Linked DNA regions of Homo sapiens. The protein of the gene in region 1 interacts with the protein of each later gene in a pairwise test. Each region holds a gene or a part of one and is shown in the gene's direction. Other genes may lie near its edges.

What was found. Proteins that work in one complex are often made in the same cells at the same time.
Region 2: the proteins of MMS19 (region 1) and RTEL1 interact in binary tests that used the Homo sapiens proteins (3 or more experiments, as listed by UniProt).
Region 3: the proteins of MMS19 (region 1) and CIAO3 interact in binary tests that used the Homo sapiens proteins (3 or more experiments, as listed by UniProt).

What each region holds. Positions count from the first base shown.
Region 1 is NC_000010.11:97,457,253-97,461,321, reverse strand, and holds the end of MMS19 (MMS19 nucleotide excision repair protein homolog), read left to right. Parts: intron 1-314; coding exon 315-415; exon of another isoform or gene 416-502; intron 503-570; coding exon 571-627; intron 628-1,089; coding exon 1,090-1,276; intron 1,277-1,580; coding exon 1,581-1,663; intron 1,664-1,795; coding exon 1,796-1,960; intron 1,961-2,039; coding exon 2,040-2,099; intron 2,100-2,421; coding exon 2,422-2,522; intron 2,523-2,602; coding exon 2,603-2,630; 3' UTR 2,631-2,998; downstream 2,999-4,069. UniProt on the Homo sapiens protein: Key component of the cytosolic iron-sulfur protein assembly (CIA) complex, a multiprotein complex that mediates the incorporation of iron-sulfur cluster into apoproteins specifically involved in DNA metabolism and genomic integrity.
Region 2 is NC_000020.11:63,674,853-63,683,322, forward strand, and holds part of RTEL1 (regulator of telomere elongation helicase 1), read left to right. Parts: intron 1-2,791; exon of another isoform or gene 2,792-3,292; coding exon 3,293-3,331; exon of another isoform or gene 3,332-3,415; coding exon 3,416-3,494; exon of another isoform or gene 3,495-3,523; intron 3,524-4,996; coding exon 4,997-5,094; intron 5,095-5,811; coding exon 5,812-5,867; intron 5,868-8,470. UniProt on the Homo sapiens protein: A probable ATP-dependent DNA helicase implicated in telomere-length regulation, DNA repair and the maintenance of genomic stability. Acts as an anti-recombinase to counteract toxic recombination and limit crossover during meiosis.
Region 3 is NC_000016.10:736,987-745,792, reverse strand, and holds the start of CIAO3 (cytosolic iron-sulfur assembly component 3), read left to right. Parts: upstream 1-4,795; 5' UTR 4,796-4,807; coding exon 4,808-4,873; intron 4,874-5,689; exon of another isoform or gene 5,690-5,771; intron 5,772-6,054; coding exon 6,055-6,150; intron 6,151-8,463; coding exon 8,464-8,607; intron 8,608-8,806.

The sequences.
Region 1 (4,069 bases):
CAGAGCTTTATAGTACCTAAGAAGAGAAGGGAGCACAAAGAGTCTAGTTCTGCCGTCCTACTCCCTACAGTGGGGCTAGTGTGGATAATTCTTTATTGGAAGTAGATGACCCTCTCTTTTCAAATGGCAGCACCTCTGTATTATGAGAATACCAGGCTCTTATGCAGGTGTCCAATCATTTTGTCCACAGGCAAAAATGATATTTTCCCTTTCTAACAGCTTCTCAGGGAGCTCTGCACTTAAAGTGATTTGCATTTCATTGCTAAAGGGAAAATGTGTAGCCTTTATGTCAGCATTTCCTCTCTCCTTTTTAGGGCAGCAGCTGGATGAATTCCTACAGCTAGCTGTGGACAAAGTGGAGGCTGGCCTGGGCTCTGGGCCCTGTCGTAGTCAGGCCTTCACTCTTCTTCTCTGGGTAAGGAGTTGGAGTGGAGTCTGGTTAGCCAGAGAGGCAATTATGTCTGGTTAAATAAAATGTCCCTGTTTGACCCTAAACCATAAACATCTATGTCTCAGGGTTCTCGGGTTTGAGTGTCATTCCCCAATTGCTCTCTCTGTCTCCAATTACAGGTAACAAAGGCCCTAGTGCTCAGATACCATCCTCTCAGCTCCTGCCTTACAGCCCGGGTACGTCCTTTCTGGAGACAGAAGAACCCAGGACCTAAACAAACTTTCTGGTTGCTCCTATTCCTCCCAAGGACTTCCATCCTCCCCTGTGTGTTTTTTGTTTTCTTTTCTTTTTTCTTTTTGGAGACAGGGTCTTACTCTGTCACCCAGGCTGGAGTACAGTAGTGCAATCACAGCTCACTCCAGCCTCAACCTCCGTAGGCTCAAGTGATCCTCCCACTTCAGCCTCGCAAGTAGCTGGGACTACAGGGGCACCCCACCACACCCAACTAATGTTTGTATTTTTTGTAAGAACTGGGTTTGGCCATGTTGCCCAGACTCCTAGACTCAAGCAGTCCACCTGCCTTGGCCTCCCAAAGTGCTAGGATTACAGGCATGAGCCACCACACCCGGCCCCATCCTTATCTTTGGCACTTAAGATTCTTCTTCCCTGATGTACCTCAAAGGCTCTTTTTTCTCCAGCTCATGGGCCTCCTGAGTGACCCAGAATTAGGTCCAGCAGCAGCTGATGGCTTCTCTCTGCTCATGTCTGACTGCACTGATGTGCTGACTCGTGCTGGCCATGCCGAAGTGCGGATCATGTTCCGCCAGCGGTTCTTCACAGATAATGTGCCTGCTTTGGTCCAGGGCTTCCATGCTGCTCCCCAAGGTGAGGAGTCTGAAAGAAGGTCCCCACATATACACATCTCTCCTTTGCTTGGCCACATTCCCTAAGATAATTTAGGGCCCGCTTGCTTCTTTAGAGCTATATTGTGGTCTGTGCCTAGAAGACTAAACTTCTAGATTCTTGTCCCACTTCTTCCTTTCATGGGCGTATCTTGCTTATTCTGAGCGTGAAGGGCTCTTTCACCCGTTTGTAGGCTGATGTCTCAGCCTCACCACAGATTGGAATTGATTTCTCAAGCTATATATCTAAGTCCAATTTCTCCCCTAAGCCTTTCCATTTTTTACAGATGTGAAGCCAAACTACTTGAAGGGTCTTTCTCATGTACTTAACAGGCTGCCCAAGCCTGTACTCTTGCCAGAGCTGCCCACGGTAAGTCCCACAGGCAGAGCTTCTAAGCAAAGGACAAAGCTATTCTTCCCCAGATGGGGCTAGAAAGGGGAGGGAACAAGAACCAGGATCTTCATGATGTGGCCATCCCCTACCTTGCCCATTGCCCCTTAGCTTCTTTCCTTGCTGCTGGAGGCCCTGTCCTGCCCTGACTGTGTGGTGCAGCTCTCCACCCTCAGCTGCCTTCAGCCTCTTCTACTGGAAGCACCCCAAGTCATGAGTCTTCACGTGGACACCCTCGTCACCAAGTTTCTGAACCTCAGCTCTAGCCCTTCCATGGTGCGTTGAGCCCCAGCAACTCTTAGGCACCAGCATCTCTCCCTGGGCATGCTCTCACCTCCTTGTGGTTGTGTTCCAGGCTGTCCGGATCGCCGCACTGCAGTGCATGCATGCTCTCACTCGCCTGCCCACCCCTGTGGTAAGTACCTCAGGTGTCCTTCCCTGGCCTGGGAACATCTCAAGAGACACATAAGTACCTTTTTGCCTTAGTCAGGTGGGCTTGGCCACCCTGGTGTGTAATTGAGATCTGAATTACAAGGTACAGATCTTGTAATTCTGGGCCCAAGGATTCTTTTCCTTGGGCCCAGAAGGTAACAGAAAGGCCATCCTGCCACTTAACATCCCTTGGAATCACTAAAGATGTTTTGCTTTCCTCAGAATATTAGTTGTACAGAATCAAAAAAGCGGTACTTTCAGTTGCCTTGGATGAGCAAGGTTGATTATATCCTCTGACTCCACAGCTGCTGCCGTACAAACCACAGGTGATTCGGGCCTTAGCCAAACCCCTGGATGACAAGAAGAGACTGGTGCGCAAGGAAGCAGTGTCAGCCAGAGGGGAGTGGTGAGTTTCTAGGTCGTGGGGAGAGATGGGACCAAGATGAGCCTCATCACTAATGCTGCCAACTTTCTTTTTGCCTACAGGTTTCTGTTGGGGAGCCCTGGCAGCTGAGCCCTCAGTCCTGGCCTAGACTGTTCTGACAATCTAACCTGGGATTACTAACTGTTGAGCCATCTTCCCCAAAGCAGGGAAACCACTGGTCTCTGACTGCCTTTCCCACAGACACAGCACAAATGCTAGGCCTCTGTTGCATGGCTGTACAAAGAACATAAGAGTCCATATTTCTAGTGGATTTGTAAAATAAGTGTGTGTGAGACACTTGCGTTTGAAGAAAGATCTAGGGTCCTGGGTCTCTTGCATTTATATGTCAGAAAAGGGGCGATATGCTGCTGAGGGGTGAGTGCATATGAGTGTGGCCCTGAGGACCAGGGCTGGCAGATGTTGTCTACCTGCTGAAGAATAAAGATTTCTTTTGGTAATGGGGCTGTCAGATATTTCCCCCACCCCACATATGCCTCATATAACCAGAGGCATCACTGGAATAACAATGACAGGGATTGGCCAAAAATTTTTCAGGGTAACCAGGACAGTAGCACATGCCTGTAACCCCAACACTTCAGGAGGCTGAGGCAGGCGGATCACTTGAGGCTAGGAGTTTGAGACTAGCCCTGGCAGTATAGCAAGAACCCATCTCTACAAATAATTAAAAAAAAAAAAAAATTAAGCTGGGCATGGTGGCTGACGCCTGTAATCCCAGCATTTTGGGAGGCCGAGGCGCATGGATCAGTGGAGGTCAGGAGTTCAAGACCAGACTGGCCAACATGGTGAAACCCCATCTCCACTAAAAATACAAAAATTAGCCAGGTGTGGTGGCATACGCCTTTAATCACAGCTACTTGGGAGGCTGAGACACAAGAATCACTTGAGCCGGGCGCGGTGGCTCACGCCTGTAAAGCTTGTAATCCCAGCACTTTGGGAGGCCGAGGCGGATGGATCACAAGGTCATGACATCGAGACCTCCTGGCTAACACAGTGAAACCCCGTCTCTACTAAAAATACAAAAATTAGCCGGGTGTGGTGGCGGGCGCCTGTAGTCCCAGCTACTCGGGAGGCTGAGGCAGGAGAATGGCGTGAACCCGGGAGGCGGAGCTTGCAGTGAGCCGAGATCACACCACTGCACTCCAGCCTGGGTGATATAGAGCGAGACTCCGTCTCAAAAAAAAAAAAAAAAAAAAATCACTTGAAACTGGGAGGCGGAGGTTGCAGTGAGTCAAGATCGCGCCACTGCATTACAGCCTGAGAGACAGAGTGAGACTCCATCTCCAAAAAAAAAAAAAATGTAGGAAGCATGACCAGAACACCTACTCACTAGGTCTTGACCCTGACTTTCCCCTTCCCTGCCCTATCGTGAGGCAGAGAGTGAGAAGCTACATATCTTTAAAAATCGAATACCTTTATTTGTGCTCCCTTAAGCAGCATGTGAGAAGTGGCAGTGACCTCAGCAGCAGGCCTGGTATCTTTGCCCTGTTGAGAAGCCAAGATCTCAGCTG
Region 2 (8,470 bases), on another chromosome or scaffold:
TACGTGGAAAACGTGGAAACCCTTCATGGATGTTGTCAGTTGGTCTATATTTTCTTTCTTTTTTTTTTTTTTGAGATGGAGTTTCACTTTTGTTGCCCAGGCTGGAGTGCAATGGCGCGATCTTGGCTCACTGCAACCTCCGCCTCCTGGGTTCAAGCAATTCTCCTGCCTCAGCCTCCCAAGTAGCTGGGATCACAGGCGTGCACCACCACGCCCAGCTAATTTTGTATTTTTAGTAGAGATGGTTTCTCCGTGTTGGCCAGGCTGGTCTCGAACTCCTGACCTCACGTGATCCACCCGCTTCGGCCTCCCAAAGTGCTGGGATTACAGGCGTGAGCCGCCACGCCCGGCCTTTGTCCATATTTTCTACATGGCTTCTGTAAACAGCTGACTAGGAGTCTGTGTGAATATCTTCATAGGTTCTGCTGTGACACTACTTGCTCGTGAGCATCTCCAGGTGTAAACAGCATCAGCTTCCCCCATTTTCCTTTAAAATCGCACATGTGGACGGACACCACGGGGACCCTGGACCCTGGGGAGCCCCGTCCTCACCCTTCTCACCAGGATGGCTGCTTGGTAGAGAGTGAGTTTGCAAAGTTGGCATTTGTTTAGTACAGAAGTTATCAGGTGTTCTGGCTTTAGAATCCCTTTATATATATATATATATACATATATTTAAGTGACAGGGTCTCACTCTGTTGCCCAGGCTGGAATGTGGTGGTACAATCAAAGTTCCCTGTAGCCTCGGCCTCCTGGGCTCATGGGATCTTCCCGTCTCAGCGTCTTAAAGCGCCGGGACCACAGGTGTGCACCACTGCCACCGGCTCTCAAGATTGCCACGCAGGGAGTTGCAGTGGGGGAAGGGGTTCCTGGGACTTTGAACGCTCCACCTCCCTCCTCTCCACAGTCCCCCAACCCCACCTCTCTAACGGGGTGGACGGCCGCCTCTTTCCATCCTTCGCTTGGCGCAGGGTGGGGAGAGTGACAGGTCTCCTTCCCTCATCTCGGCAGCTGCCATTTCATCGCTTACATAACGTGGGAGAAACATCCACCCACCCCCAGGCCTGTGTGAACATCACCACGGGGCCTTCTCCACTCTTCAGTTTTGTTAGTTACTTGATGTGCAGGGCTTTTTGTTGTAACTAGTGGGGGACGTGTGGTGGGGTGGGCTTCTGCCATCTCATTCAGGACCAGAACTTCAGTTTTCATCCCTATCTGTTCCCCCACCCCTTTGGAGATGGGGTCTCACTCTGTCACCCAGGCTGGAGAGCGGTGGTGCCATCACGGCTCACTGCAGCCTCCACCTCCTGCAGCCTCCACCTCTTGGGCTCAAGTGATCCTCCTGCCTCGGCCTCCCAAGCTCCTGGGACTACAGGCGTGTGCCACTGTGCTTGGCAGGGTCCATTCTTTTCCTCACACTTTATTTATTGAAGAGCCCAGGCCGTTTACCCTGCAGAGTCGGAATCTGTACAGGAGGGGCAGCCACACGAGTTCCCCGGTTTACTCTGAACTTAGGTGGCTTGAGGGCCCCAGTTAGACTGCGGCCACCGTTTGCCGGGCTCCAGATGGGACGTCCTTTCTATCAGAAGGCTCACAGTATCTCCTTTCCCGTTTCTTCCCATGTGAACATTGTTGCTGCTGAACACCTGAATATGTTAATCACTGGGGGCTTGCAAGATGGCAGTGTGCTAATTCCATCATCTAGTCAGTTAGCAGGAATAACTTAGGACCACGCCCTGCACCATATCAGCTATGTGGTGATCCCATTCACACAGGAAAGGTGGGACAAATGCTGGGGGTGGGCCGGGTGTGCTGTCTCACACCTGTCATCCCAGCACTTTGGGAGGCCCAGGCAGGCGGATCACGAGGTCAGAGATTGAGACCATCCTGGCCAACACGGTGAAACCCCGTCTCTACTAAAAATACAAAAAAATTAGCCAGGTGTGGTGGTGCATGCTTGTAATCCCAGCTACTTGGGAGGCTGAGGCAGGAGAATCACTTGAACCCAGGAGGCGGAGGTTGCAGTGAGCCGAGATCGCACCATTGCACTCCAGCCTGGCGACAGAGCGAGACTCCGTCTCAAAAATCAATCAGTCAATCAAGTGTCATCACTGAATGTTTGTGTGTGAACGTGGGGATTGGTCCTGCCCCATGCTCCCTCCTGAATCTCACTCCTGACCTCAGTTGCTGCACCTTGAGGTGTTTTCATGTGGGCTCTTGTGTCCTGACCCCGGCGGTTGTGGCCTCTTTGCTGTCTGGGAGTCAGGATTTTTCACACTCATGTCCTGCTCCAGACCTGGAATCAGCCAAGTCTCCAAGAAGCCCTGCTTTCTTTTCCTGCAAGACGGTATTTCAAGACCCGCCATGCGGCAGCGGGTTGGTCATGGTTACTGGGTTGGTCGTTGTTACTGGGTGTTTTCGTGGAGATACAGCCATACGCACAGGTGTGTTCACAAATGTTAATTCTAAAGGTCAAACACCCGGCCAGGCATAAGGGCTCAGCGGTAATCCCAGCACTTTGGGAGACCAAGACTGGTGGATCACCTGAGGTCAGGAGTTTAAGACCAGCCTGAGCAACAGGGTGAAACCCCATCTCTACTAAAAATGCGAAAATTAGCCGGGCATGGTGGCGCACACCTATAGTCCCAGCTAGTCGGGAGACAGACACGAGAATTGCTTGAACCTGGGACATGGAGGTTGCAGTGAGCAGAGATGGCGCTGCTGCACCCCTGCCTGGGTGACAGAGTGACACCCTGTCTCAAAAATGAATAGATAAATAAAGATAAAACACCTGCTCCTCTTGGTGTCTCCAGTTTGGATTTGGCCTGTGTAGCCTCTTCCTTCGCCTGTTGGTGGATTTGGCCTGCACGGATTCTGTGTGGCCTCTTCCTTCCCCTGTTGGTGGATTTGGCCTGCACGGATTCTGTGTGGCCTCTTCCTTCCCCTGTTGGTGGATTTGGCCTGCACGGATTCTGTGTGGCCTCTTCCTTCCCCTGTTGGTGGATTTGGCCTGCACGGATTCTGTGTGGCCTCTTCCTTCCCCTGTTGGTGGATTTGGCCTGCACGGATTCTGTGTGGCCTCTTCCTTCCCCTGTTGGTGGATTTGGCCTGCACGGATTCTGTGTGGCCTCTTCCTTCCCATGTTGGTGGATTTGGCCTGCATGGATTCTGTGTGGCCTCTTCCTTTCCATGTTGGTGTCCTTTTTTCCATGCCAGGAATCCTGGTTCTCAAGGGCGGGGTTGTTGGCACGAGCGTGATGCAGACTGCCTTTGCTGCCTTTCTCTTGCCCAGGGCTGAACATGGAGCTGGAAGACATTGCAAAGCTGAAGAGTAAGTGTTGCCCTCCCCGCCTCCTTGCAGCTGGGTGGGGCCTCCTCCTTGCGAGGAGGTGGGTGACACCTCCTCGACCCACAGTGATCCTGCTGCGCCTGGAGGGGGCCATCGATGCTGTTGAGCTGCCTGGAGACGACAGCGGTGTCACCAAGCCAGGGAGGTGAGAGGCGGGGAGCCAGCCCCTTCACTGCAGGCCCAGCCTAGAGCTAGAAACGGGCCATGGTGCAGTCCTGGGCTGTCACATCACGAGTGAGGCCTGTTTTCAGGCCTGTTTTCCCTTTTTGAGACCTGGGAGGAGCACCTGCTTTGCATGATCTGGTTGCTGAGATGTTGAGAGGAGCAGCACACACTCCCACGGGACAGCACACAGCCCCCCACGGAACGGCACACACACCCATGGAACAGCACACACACTCCCACGAACAGCACACACACTCCCACGAACAGCACACACACTCCCACGGAACAGCACACACACCCACGGAACGGCACACACACCCACGGAACAGCACACACACTCCCACGGAACAGCACACACACCCACGGAACGGCACACACTCCCACGGAACGGCACACTCTCCCACGGAACAGCACACTCTCCCACGGAACAGCACACACACTCCCACGGAACAGCACACACACCCACGGAACGGCACACACTCCCACGGAACAGCAGACTCTCCCACGGAACAGCACACACACTCCCACAGACAGCACACACACACCCACGGAACAGCACACTCTCCCACGCGGGGCCGCTGGGTTTCCTGCAGTTTCTCCTCCTCCAGGCCTTTCCCTGGACCCTGGTCCAGTCCGTCATTTGAGCACAGGTGCCTGTTAGAACGAGACCTTCTTGTTAGGACGATGAGTGTCCCAGCCACCACCTCTTTTGGACTCCGGGAGGCCTGGAACGTTCTGAACGCTCCGTGGGGCTCCAGTCTTCTCCGCAGCCAGGGCAGCAGGGTTTGCTGTCTGTCCTGCAGGCAGATGAGGAGTCAGGGCTGGGGCCTGTGTGGGGGCTCTCCTGAGCGCACAGCCGCCGAGGTGGAGCGTGTTCTGCCTGAGCGCCGACCTGGTCGGGGGAATCCCAGTTGCTTCCAGGTGGAGCCACTGTCCTCAGCGTAATGCTCAAGGCTCTGGCCTGGCTCCTCGGCCACCCTGCACCCTCAGGGTCCCCTCCTGTAGCTTCTGCTGCCCCATCACTGTCACTCTCCAAAGCTTTGGGGACTCTGCCCAGAGCCACCGCCTCCCAGAAGCCCCTGACAACCTCTTGACGACCCCCTAGTGACCCCATCCCTCCCCTCTGACGGCGGCCCCTGCTCTGAGGCGGCTTCTTTTCCTCGGTGCTGTTCTCGTGCTGGCCAGGCCTCCTCTCCCCACCTGGAGGCTCCTGAGGGCGGAGGCCTCTCACCTCCAATGCTGGCGTCCCCTGGAGGGCTGAATTTGTTTCCGAGGGAAGGAAACTTCCACAGTTGTTGCCTTCAGTTCCAAAGCTGCAGCCTGATTTCCCCCTCCAGGCTCGAGCCTGTTTTCTTCTCGGCAGCTACATCTTTGACCAGTGTCGTCCCCCCTCAGGCCCGAGCCTGCCTTCTTCTCCTCAGTTCCCAAAGCTGCAGTCTGGTCCCCCCGCCAGGCTCGAGCCTGCCTTCTTCTCCTCGGCAGCTACATCTTTGAGCTGTTTGCTGAAGCCCAGATCACGTTTCAGACCAAGGGCTGCATCCTGGACTCGCTGGACCAGATCATCCAGCACCTGGCAGGACGTGAGTGCTGGCACGGGGTCTTTGGTGCGGGCAAATGTGGCGTAGGGGGTGCAGCAGGCCTCCATCTTGGCAGTCAGGGCTCCCCTGGCCGTCACCTGGCCGTCAGCAGGAACAGGCCCACAGAACCTCATCTTCTGATCGGGGCGTGGAGGCGTTAGTGCCACTTGCCAGCTGCCGTAGAGCCTGTCCCAGTTCTGCAGCTGGCGGCTTCGTCCTACAGCCTCATCCCATTATTCTGCTTTTGAGAAAGAGCAGCCCAAGGCCCTAGCTGGCTTGTGGGGCCTCTGGCTTCTCCACACCACCCCGAGTTCTGCTTCTCAGAGTTGTGGGGTCCAGAGGCTTTGCCCAGAGGCGGTGTCCCCATGGGCTGCTCTGGTTTGAGACGCCGGGCCCAGCGGGGTCTCTCCTCTGCTGCGCTCCCGGGTGCTGGGGAGGGTGGCTTTTGCTGCTTCAACCCTTAGGCGACCATAGAGCCTCTTTTCAAGTCCCACTGACCCCCTTGGAGACTCTGTCCCTGCCTGGCTTCTCTCCTGGCTGCTGGGAAGAGCAGGCGAACTGCCCGCCCTGAATGGATGCTGCGCTCCACCCTGGGCCCCCCATTGGGCAGGAGATGGAGCTTGGCAGTCGGGCTGAGCGGGCTCATGCTGGAAGGGCCGGGGCTGGGGTCGGGGCCTCCCCTGCCTGCAGTGTGGGTGTCAGCGCCCTGCTGCCCTCCAGGTGCTGGAGTGTTCACCAACACGGCCGGACTGCAGAAGCTGGCGGACATTATCCAGGTGGGGCCTGCTCCTCTGTGGCATCTCCTTCCCTGATGGAAGCCGGGCGGGTGCCTTCTCCTGCTGTATTAGTTAACTGATTCTAGACTTGGGGATGGGAGAAAGGCCCCTACACCACCTGTTTCTGATTGGCAAACTCTCGGCTCCTTTCCAGTGCCCTAAACCCACACTGGGCCTCCTGCAGGGATGGGGGAGGACGAGGTCTGGTGGCACATGCCCAGGGTGATGCTGGTGAGGGAGGACGCAAAGGACAGTGGGGGCCGGGGAGCCGCTCCTGCCCTGTCCGGGCCCTCAGGCCAGGGGGGACCCACTGCTGGCAGCCCCAGCAGCCCCAGCTGCACGCAGATGAAGAGCTCTGGACACACGCGGCTTCCTGAACAGCTTCTCCAGGGACAGACAAATGGGGACCCTGCAGGTTCCCGGCAGGGGTGTCCCTGGGAGCCCATGATTGGGGGTGCGACCCTGGCCCCCTTCTCATTGGCCCCGTCCTGTCCTGCAATGCCCGTCCCATGTGAGGTCTGCTTCTGGCTCCATGCCTATGGCAGCACCTGCTTTCCCTGGCGTAGAGGTGCTTGTCCGGTTTGTGGAGGGCACGCCCCATTTTGGGTGCTCTGGGCACGTTGCCTCTCCGGGGCCTCGGTGGCTTTTTTAGAAGCAGACTCAGAAGTCCCTGACTGGGGAAGCCAAGGCACAGGTGGCTGTGTGGAGCCCTGTGAGGCCTCCTCTGTGCTGCCCACGCTGTACCTGCTGGCCACACGAGATCATGGCAGGGTTAGGCAGGGCTGCCCAGCGCTATGACAGCTTCATGAGTGTCCATCTGGCCTGTGGGGTGCTTGAGCTGGGGGAGGCCGCAGAAGAACCCTGGGATGCATGGCTGGCCTGTGCATGCTGCTGGGCATGGAGCTGCAGATCCCGGAACAAGCAGGCACTGCCTTCTCCTTCACAGACGCAGCTCTGAGCGGGGGCGAGACCTGGGCAGGGACCAGGTGGGGTGGGCACAGGGTGGTGGGGCCCAGGCTCAGCCCTCCCTCCACTGTGGCCGTCTCTGTGGCCAGTGACGCCACAGCCTGTGTCTTCTCTGTGCGGTAGCTGGGGCTGGAAGGACAGCACTGCCTTGTCCTCCCAACTCCTCCCCAAAGGCACGGTGGGCATCCCAGGCCCAGACCCCTCTGTCTGTGGCTCCTGCCTGCCAAGGGCTGCTGTGCTGTCCCGCATGGAGTGTGGTTGGCTCTTCAAGCAGGAGGCCGTGCACCTATCAGGCGGACCTGCTTCCATGTCCCTGATGGGTCACTGCAAAGCACCTCCAGCACATGGCCAGGCGAGGTAGCCCTGCAGCCCAGGGCCTGGAGGGCAGGTGTGAGCTGGCCCGGGCCTGTCCCTCCCTGGAATACAGCTTCCCAGGCTCCCACTTATGGAGAAGTCTCCTCCACACTATGGAACTGAATCCTAGAATGTGGCTTCTGAGGTTCCTACACTCGAACTGAATCCTGGAATGCGGCTTCCAAGGCTTCCAGCTATGGAGAAGACTCCACACTCTGGAACCGAATCCTGGAACGCGGCCTCCCAGGCCCCCAGCTATGGAGAAGACTCCACACTCTGGAACCGAATCCTGGAACGCGGCCTCCCAGGCCCCCAGCTATGGAGAAGACTCCACACTCTGGAACCGGATCCTGGAACGCGGCCTCCCAGCCTCCCACTTAAGGAGAAGTCTCCACACTCTGGAACCGGATCCTGGAACGTGGCCTCCCAGGCCCCCACTTAAGGAGAAGACTCCACACTCTGGAACCGAATCCTGCACACTCCATCGGTTTGGAATTTCCTTTGGCTGCTGCTCTAAGTAGCCGCTGGTGGATGACTCAGCTTCTGCCAGCCCTCGGGTGCCTGGAGGATGAGGGACTGCACACAGTGCTCACCCGCGTTGGCTCCTGAGCCCCTGCAGGTGTGGGCGGTGCCCATAGGGCTGGTGCTGGGTTGGGCCTGCAGCCCTGAGTCACAGGTGACCCTGGGGGCAGAGTGGGGCCAGTGGCCCCAGGAAGAGGATGTGGGATGCACAGCTCAGCTGGAGGCGAACTCCAGGCAGGGTCAGGCCGTGTGCTCGGAAGTCAGGGCTTAGCTGGAGGCAAACTCTGGGCAGTGCTGGCCCGTGTTGGGGAACCAGTTGCCCCTGGGCCCCCGTGAGACTGCTGGGTCCTCATCCCTCTCTGCCTGAGGCCGGAGCTGCCCTGGGCTGAGGCACAGGGGGATTTGTGGTGGTGTTTTTTTGAGAAAGGGTCTCGCTTTGTCACCCCGGCTGGAGTGCAGGGGCTTGATCACAGCTCACTGCAGCCTCAACCTCCTGGGCCCAAGTGATCCTCTTGCCTCAGCCACCCGAGGAGCTGTGAACACAGGTGTGCACCACCGCACTCAGCTAATTTTTAAAATTTTTTTGTAGAGATGAGGTCTTGCCATGTTTCCCAGGCTGGTCTCAAACTCCTGGGCTCAGGCAGTCTGCCCGCCTTGGCCTCCCAAAGTGCTGGGATTACAGGCAAGAGCTTCCATGCCTGCCCAGCAGAAGGCTTTTCGAAGGAAGCTGTTTCCTGAGGCAGACTCAGCCCTGCTCATGG
Region 3 (8,806 bases), on another chromosome or scaffold:
GTCCCACAAGAACCTGAAATGAGGGCTGTGGTGGCTGAAGGGCAGCCTCCCAAAAGATACAACCAGGCCAGGCCCAGTGGCTCACGCTGTAATCCCAGCACTGGGGGGCCGAGGTGGAAGGATCACTTGAGCCCAGGAGTTCGAGACCAGCCTGGCCAACATGGTGAAACCCTGTCTTTTTTTTTTTTTGAGACAGAGTCTCACTCTGTTGCCCAGGCTGCAGTGCAGTGGTGCGATCTCAGCTCATTGCAAGCTCCACCTCCCAGGTTCACGCCATTCTCCTGCCTCAGCCTCCTGAGTAGCTGGGACTACAGGCACCCGCCACCACGCCCAGCTAATTTTTTCTATTTTCAGTAGAGACGGGGTTTCACCGCGTTAGCCAGGATGGTCTCGATCTCCTGACCTTGTGATCCGCCGGCCTCGGCCTCCCAAAGTGCTGGGATTACAGGTGTGAGCCAACGCGCCCAGCCCCGTCTTTAATAAAAATATAAAAATTAGCTAGGCCTGGTGATGGACTCCTGTAGTACCAGCTGCTCAGGAGGCTGAGGCAGGAGAATCGCTTGAATCCTGCAGGCAGAGGCTGCAGTGAGCCAAGATCCTGCCACTGTACTCCAGTCTGGGCAACAAGAGCGAAACTCCGTCTCAAAAAAAAATAATAATAAAGGCCGGGTGCAGTGGCTCACGCCTGTAATCCCCGCACTTTGGAAGGCTGAGGTGGGCAAATCATGAGGTCAGGAGATCAAGACCATCCTGGCTAACATGGTGAAACCCCATTTCTACTGAAAATACAAAAATTAGCCAGGCGTGGTGGCAGGAGCCTGTAATCCCAACTACTTGGGAGGCTGAGGCAGAATTGCTTGAACCCGGAAGGCAGAGGTTGCAGTGAGCCAAGCTTGTGCCACTGCATTCCAGCCTGGGTGACAGAGTGAGACTCTGTCTCAAAAAATAATAATAATACTCATGCCTATAATCCCAGCACTTTGGGAGGCCGAGGCCGGCAGATCACGAGGTCAGAAGATTGTGCCCATCTTGGCTAACACATGGTGAAACCCCGTCTCTAGTAAAAATACAAAAAAATTAGCCACGTGTGGTGGTGGGCGCCTGTAGTACCAGCTACTCGGGAAGCTGAGAGAGGAGAATGGCGTGAACCCAGGAGGTGGGGCTTGCAGTGAGCTGAGATGGTGCCACTGCACTCCAGCCTGGGCAACAGAGTGAGACTCCATCTCAAAAGAATAATAATAATAATAATAACAGTAAAAATAGCCAGGCATGGTGGCGCACACCTGTAGTCCCAGCTACTTGGGAGGCTGAGGCCGGAGGATCTCTTGAGCCCGGGAGGCTGAGGCTATAGTGAGCTGTGATCACACCACTGCACTCCAGCCTGGGAAGAGAGCAAGACACTGTATCAAGAAAAAAAAAATGTGCTGGAGCGACACAGTCACAGACCAAGGACAACTGGAGCCCCTGGAAGCTGGAGAAAGCAGGAAGGGTCCTCCCTGCAGCCTCCAGAGGGAGCACGGTGAATGACACCATGACCTCAGATGTGTGGCCTCCACAGCTAGTAGGGGACGCATCTCTGTTGCTTTCACCCCGGCGTGTTGTCATTTGTTACGGGAGCCTCAGGAGACAGGCACAGGATGATCCCTTCCGAGGGTGAAGCTCTGACACCAACCCAGGAGAGGGGACCAGGTGGCTCTACCAGTATCATGACCCCGGACCAGCAAGAGGATGCTAGCATGCAACCTCCCACCCAACCACCGGGGGCGGCTGTAGGCAAAGGGGGGTCCTGTGGGTGCCCGCAGAGCAGACGCCTCCACCAGGCATCCCTTCCAGCCCAGGGAAAGGGGGTGCCCATACACAGTCACAGCATCACAGCAACCTGGGGTCCGGCCGGCCTCGCCCTATGTCCCCAGCCGGCCCTCGTGTCCCCCCGTGCCCTCCCTGGGTTCCCTGGCCCTGGCTCAGGGACTAGCACGTGGGAAGTGCATGGTAAATACTCGCTAATGACGATGATTAAACAATCTGCAAAACAGAAAGCAGGGACCCCAGAGGCACGAGGTTGGCACTAGAGCTCAGGGGCTCCAGGGAAATGTCTGTGAGTTAATGAAGAACCCCGCCCCAGCTCCACCCGGAGCAGCAAGAGGAAGCTCACCTAAAGACCCTTCCCTTATCCCAACAGCCCTCCTCACTCTCACATTTTCTGTAAACCCACTCCACTGCATTTCAGTGGCACTAAGTTTCTTTCGTATTTTTTTTCTTTTTTTTTTTTTTTGAGACGGGGTCTCGCCCTGTCGCCCAGGCTGGAGTGCAGTGGTGCCGTCTCGGCTCACTGCAAGCTCCGCCTCCCGGGTTCACACCATTCTCCTGCCTCAGCCTCCCCAGTAGCTGGGACTACAGGCGCCCGCCACTACACCCGGATAATTTTTTTTTTTTTATATTTTTAGTAGAGACAGGGTTTCACTGTGTTAGCCAGGATGGTCTTGATCTCCTGACCTCATGATCTGCCGGCCTCGGCCTCCCGAAGTGCTGGGATTACAGGCGTGAGCCATCGCACCCGGCCTCGTGTTTTGTTTTTCTTTCTTCTTTTAGATGGAGTCTCGCTCAGTCGCCCAGGCTGGAGTACAATGGTGCGATCTCAGCTCACTGCAACCTCTGCCTCCTGGGTTCAAGTGATTCTCCTGTCTCAAACTCCCGAGTAGCTAGGACTACAGGCACGTGCCACCACGCCTGATAAGTTTTTTTTTTTTGAGACAGTGTCTTAGTCTGTTGCTCAGGCTAGAGTGCAATGGTGCTATCTCAGCTCACCACAACCTCCACCTCCCAGGCTCAAGCGATTCTCCTGCCTCACCCTCCTTAGTACCTGGGATTCCAGGCACAAACCACCATGCTGGGCTAATTTTTATATTTTTAGTAGAGATGGGGTTTCACCATGTTGGCCAGGGTGGTCTTGAACTCCTGACCTCAAATGATCCACCTGCCTCAGCCCCACAATGTGCTGGGATTACAGGCGTGAGCCACCGCGCCCAGCCTAATTTTTGTATTTTTAGTAGACGGGGTTTCACCATGTTGGCTGGGCTGGTCACAAACTCCTGACCTCGGGTGATCCACCCACCTGGGCCTCCCAAAGCGCTGGTGAGCCACCGCACCCGACCCCCTGTTCTATTTTTAATAGAAGATATTTCAGCCCCTAATCTCCAAGCTCGGCCAGGTATTGCCAGGTGGCGGGATGGCTGGGACCTGGAAGCTCACCTGGCCCAGGTGCTGGGGAAAGCTCCTCCGTGCAGCAGCAGAAGAAAGTCCTGTCTGGCCGAGAGGAGCAGCTGCAGGTGATGGAGAAGGCCACACAGGCTGGTGGCCCAAACCCCACAGGCAGGTGCAGGAGTGCCCAGGCCGCATCCAGGTGGGGACATGTGGTCAGAATCAGGGCCTAGAACCCTGGGGAGGGTGCGGCGCAGGCTGGGACCTAGGATGTTGCCACTGTGAGATCTCCATGGGCTGAGCCTGCTTGGGCCGGAAAGATGCCAGCCTCGATCCAGGAGTTTCCTGAAAAGTCCCCATAAAACTGGCCATTAGACATGTAACTGGCCATATGATGCCAGATATACATGTAACTGGCCAGGCGCGGTGGCTCATGCCCGTAATCCCAGCGCTTTGGGAGGCTGAGGTGGGTGGATCACTAGGTAAGGAGTTCAAGACCAGCCTGGCCAACATGGTGAAACCCAGTCTCTAATTAAAACTACAAACATTAGCCGGATGCAATGGCAGGTGACTGTAATCCCAGCTACTCGGGAAGCTGAGGCAGGAGAATTGCTTGAACCCAGGCGGCAGAGGTTGCAGTGAGCCGAGATCGCGCCACTGCACTCCAGCCTGGGCAACAGAGTGAGACTCTGTCTCAAAAAAGAAAAAAAAAAAAGTGAGTCGGGGTCGGGCGCGGTGGCTCACGCCTGTAATCCCAGCACTTTGGGAAGCTGAGGCGGGCAGATCACGAGGTCAGGAGTTCGAGACCATCCTGGCTAACACGGTGAAACCCCGTCTCTACTAAAAATACAAAAAATTAGCCGGGCGTGGTGGTGGGCGCCTGTAGTCCCAGCTACTCGGGAGGCTGAGGCAGGAGAATCGCTTGAACCCAGGAGGTAGAGCTTGCAGTGAGCCGAGATCGCGCCATTGCACTCCAGCCTGGACGACAGAGCGAGACTCTGTCTCAAAAAAAGAAAAAAACGAAAAGCGAGTCGGCCCACAGGGTCCTGTTTCAGGGTCTCCCAGGGGCATGGACTTTTCCAGACTGGTCTCCAAGATAACAGAAAAAGGGGCTGGAGGCCCTGGGAGCGGCTCCCCAGGAAGGGGAGACCTCGTGCCTATCCATGCTTTCTTCCCTGCCTGAATTCCCCAACACGAGCTGAGCGCCTCCTGTGTGCCAGGCGCGTTCCGGGTTCTTGGGTTGCATCCGGGAGCACCTGGTCCGCAGGTACGCAGAGGATGAGGAAATGGACGGAGCCAGATCCCCTCCGCTTCCTTGTGAAGGCGGAGAGACTCCGGGGCCGGAGCTGCGGCGCTGGCCCGACCAACCCCTGCGCCCCCTGCACCCCAACCCGGGGCCTGGGGCGCGCGGGAGGTGGACGAAGCGGTAGGTCCCGGGTTCCCGCGAGGTGGGCGGGGAGCCGCAGCGCCGGGGCTCGTCAGCAGAGGGCGCCGGCCCCGGGACGAGGTGCGCATGCGTCCTGGGGGCGCTTTCCGGCAGCGTGGCGGAACCAGCCACTTCGTTTCGCGCCGTTTAGCGACACCTGCGCGCGGCGGCAGTGCGGCCGTCATGGCGTCGCCCTTCAGCGGGGCGCTGCAGCTGACGGACCTGGATGACTTCATCGGGCCGTCTCAGGTGGGCCGGCCTGGGCGGGCGGGGTCGAGGCTGCGCTCGGTGCCCTGTCGCGCGGAGGGAAATTGCTCTGCGCCCCACTTCCTCCCCTGAGGAATGAGATCCGAATCCCGGGAGCCCGGTCTGGGCCGTCAGGGACTCTATCGACCCGGGCGCGGGGCCTCAGACACTGAGGCCCGCTTCTTACCAACAAGGAAACTGAGGCCAGGGAGGGCGGCGCCCCCCAACCCGCTCCTGTGCCCCATGGTGTCCGGGCGGGCTGCGTGGGAGGGTCCCGTGGTCGCGGGCTCGCGCCGGCCTGCCCAACCCAGAGGAGGCAGCAGAGGCGGCTCCCACACATCCCTAACCCTAACCCGACCCCTGGGTCGCAGCTGGAGGGCGGCGGGGCCCGGGCCGGGGCCTCTTCCCCTTCCCCTGCGCAGGACGCCTTGTCAGGCCTCAGGACCCCCAAGCCACAGCCTTTGCATCTGCATAAACGGGTGCGGTGGGGACCCCACCTCATTTGAGGGCAGTAGGGGCGGCCCGCTAGACGCCCCGCAGTGGCTCCTCAGTAGAGCTGTCCTTAACGTCGCCCTGGTGGGCCGGACAGCTACCCTTGAACCCGGGAGGCTGCAGGCGCCCTTTTCTGGGTGCACCTGCCTGTCCATGTCCAACAGCCCCGCGGGGCCAGAGCTGAGCAGGGCGAGAGGCGGGCTGCTGGGAGCGCTTCCGGCAGGGATGAGCTGGGAGGCGGCTTTCTGGGCTGCCAGGGTTCTCAAGGAGAAGAGAGAGAAATCCACTTGTTTCCCGGGCACTGAGCAGGAGGTGGTCTCCAAACAGATCCAAGCACACGTCCTCTCGATGGGCAGTGCAACTCTGGTCTCTGTGGTGGTCACGCCCCCTGTTCACGTGAAGGGTGAAGGTCAGTGTTGGTGGTGTCTCCGCAGGTGGGTAGTTTGCAGGCGCTGTTAGCACTGGCCTTCCTGCACACTGGGAACTTCAGTGCCGCAGGATGTTGGGAACCCGATCCCTGGGTGAGAGCAGTGGGGCAGGAAGAAGACGGTGGGACCAGCCTCAGTCCCTGAGTGCATGGCTCCTGGCAGAGCCTTCAGGCTGTGCGGCTGGGCAGCCATCCTTGAGGCCTGGCCTCCCAGGGAACCTCCGCCCACTCACAGGGGCTGATTTGGGGTCTCTTCCTGCTCTAGGAGTGCATCAAGCCTGTCAAAGTGGAAAAAAGGGCGGGAAGTGGCGTGGCCAAGATTCGCATTGAAGATGACGGGAGCTACTTCCAAATTAACCAAGTAAGGCACAGGAGGCTGCTCCACCATCTCTCCTGCCCGGCTGATCCGAAACACTTTTCTCTGCTTCCTCCCGTCACAGAGCGGTGACCCCGAGACACTCCAGGTCTCACCAGTCTTTTCCCACTGGTCGAATTCACCTGCCATCTGGGAGGCTGGGGGTCAGGGTGCCTGGGGCAGGTGAATGAGCAGCACCCAGGCCAAACAGCTTGATCTGCTCAGCAGAGGGGCTATTTGCAGAGATGGTGGATCCTGTCTGCGTCTGCCTGTTCCCCCTAGTTCTAACCATGTAAGATTTTCTAATTCAGACCCCTCGTTCTTTTGTTTGTTTGTTTGTTTGTTTGTTTGATACAGAGTCTCCCTCGATGGCCCAGGCTGGAGTGCAGTGGCATGATCTCGGCTCACTGCAAGCTCTGCCTCCCAGGTTCACACCATTCTCCTGCCTCAGCCTCCCGAGTAGCTGGGACTACAGGCGGCCACCACCACGCCCAGCTAATGTTTTTTGTATTTTTAGTAGAGACGGGGTTTCACCGTGTTAGCCAGGATGGTCTCAATCTCCTGACCTCGTGATCCACCCGCCTTGGCCTCCCAAAGTGCTGGGATTACAGGCGTGAGCCACCGCGCCCAGCCCAGACCCCTCATTCTTAAAGAATAGTACTTCCTCTCTAAGTGATAAGATCCTGATGAAACTGTTAAAATTCAGGCTGGGCGCGGTGGCTCACGCTTGTAATCCCAGCACTTTGGGAGGCCAGGGTAGGGGGGGCGGATCACCTGAGGTCAGGAGTTCGAGACCAGCCTGGCCAACCCCCATCTGTACTAAAAATACAAAAATTAGTTGGGTGTCGTGGCGCATGCCTGTAATCCCAGCTACTCAAGAGGGTGAGGCAGGAGAATCACTTGAACCTGGGAGATAGGGACTGCAGTGAACCAAGATTGCTCCACTGCACTCCAGCCTGAGAGACAGAGACTCCATCTCAAAAAAATAAAGAAACTGGGCCTGGCGCGGTGGCTCAGGCCTGTAATCCCAGCACTTTGGGAGGCCGAGGCGGGTGGATCACGAGGTCAGGAGATCGAGACCATCCTGGCTAACACGGTGAAACCCCGTCTCTACTAAAAATACAAAAAAAAAAATTAGCTGGGCGTGGTGGCCGGCGCCTGTAGTCCCAGCTACCGGGAAGCTGAGGCAGGAGAATGGCGTGAGCCTGGGAGGCGGAGTTTGCAGTGAGCCGAGATCGCACCACTGCACTCTAGCCTGGGTGACAGAGCGAGACTCCATCTCAAAAAAAAAAAAAAAAAGAAACTATTAAAATTCACCTGTCTGCCATTTGGACTCTAAAAAACGTCTGCCTGATCTCATGAACCACTGCACCAAGAGACGATTTCCAGCCCAGCACTGGGGGCCCAGCCCACAAACGAAGGGAACCCCTGGAAGGTGCTGGGGTGCTGGTAGGCGTGGCTGTCGGTGCAGTGGCAGTTGGTTTGGAGGAGCCTGTCAGCCTCTGCCCAGCACCCTGTGGCAGGCAAGGCTTTGTGCCTTGGGGCAGAACCAACGTAGGAATACAAGGCGAGCTCAGATTGTGATACACAGGCCTAGCAGAGAGCTGGGCTGCGAGGGGTTCCCACACAGTTCCCACCCAGTCGCCTTACTCCTCTGGCTGTATTCCGGGCCACTGCAGCACCCCTGGCCCTGCTCAAACCATTCCTGCCTTTGCAGGAGAAGTTGGGGGAGCTCGAGCTGGGTGCGTTTTGCATGTAAGAAAAGTTGCTGAGGCATGTCCCGGAGGCCCCCGACTGGAACACCTTGTTCCTGCATCTGTTTGGCGAGTCTGACGGTTGTTTCTGCCCCGCCCACCGGAGGCCAGGCTCCCAGGCTTCCTCCCTCTGCTCTCCTCTTCCTGTGCCTTCGTCCTTTCCTCCTTTGTCCTCAGCTTTCCCGCCTCCTCCTTTCAGAGCCCACCTTCGGCATTTTCCTGCCCTACAGCCCTGTGAGTGTGCACCGGGGCCAGCACCCCGTCCAGGGCCCCATGGGTGAGTGGGGTGGCTGCTGCTTTGCTGAGATACCAGTGGCAAGCCTTAGTCCTGTGATTCGGATGCACTAACCAAGTGGTACCAAGAAGCAGACTTGACGGCATTATGAAACTGTAGAGCGTGCGTGTGCATTTTTGTAATACATACCTAATTTTTAAAAATTCAGCGGCACACAAGCCCAGCCAGCAGCCATGTTGGTTGTCGGTTATGAGCTGGACTCCACTATCCTCTGTCTCCATGTCCTCGTGCAGAGGGGGCCCCTGTGCACCGGGTTCTTCTCCCTTGTAGGACGGCGGGACCCGGAGGCTGGAGAAGGCCAAGGTCTCGCTAAACGACTGCCTGGCGTGCAGCGGCTGCATCACCTCCGCAGAGACCGTGCTTATCACCCAGCAGAGCCACGAGGAGCTGAAGAAGGTTCTAGATGCTAACAAGGTAAGCAGTGGTCGGCCTGGTGACTCTGCTTTAACCTGAAATCCATCCCAGCAGCCGACAACGCGTTTTGCCAAGGGCAGCTCGTGTGGTGCCGACGTCCGTCGTGCGGGTGGCGCCTGCCTTTTTGAGGCTTGGAATCTTGGTGATTTGTCAGTGGGCTCCAGTGGTGAACGTGTCAGGCCCCAAACTTCAGGTTCTA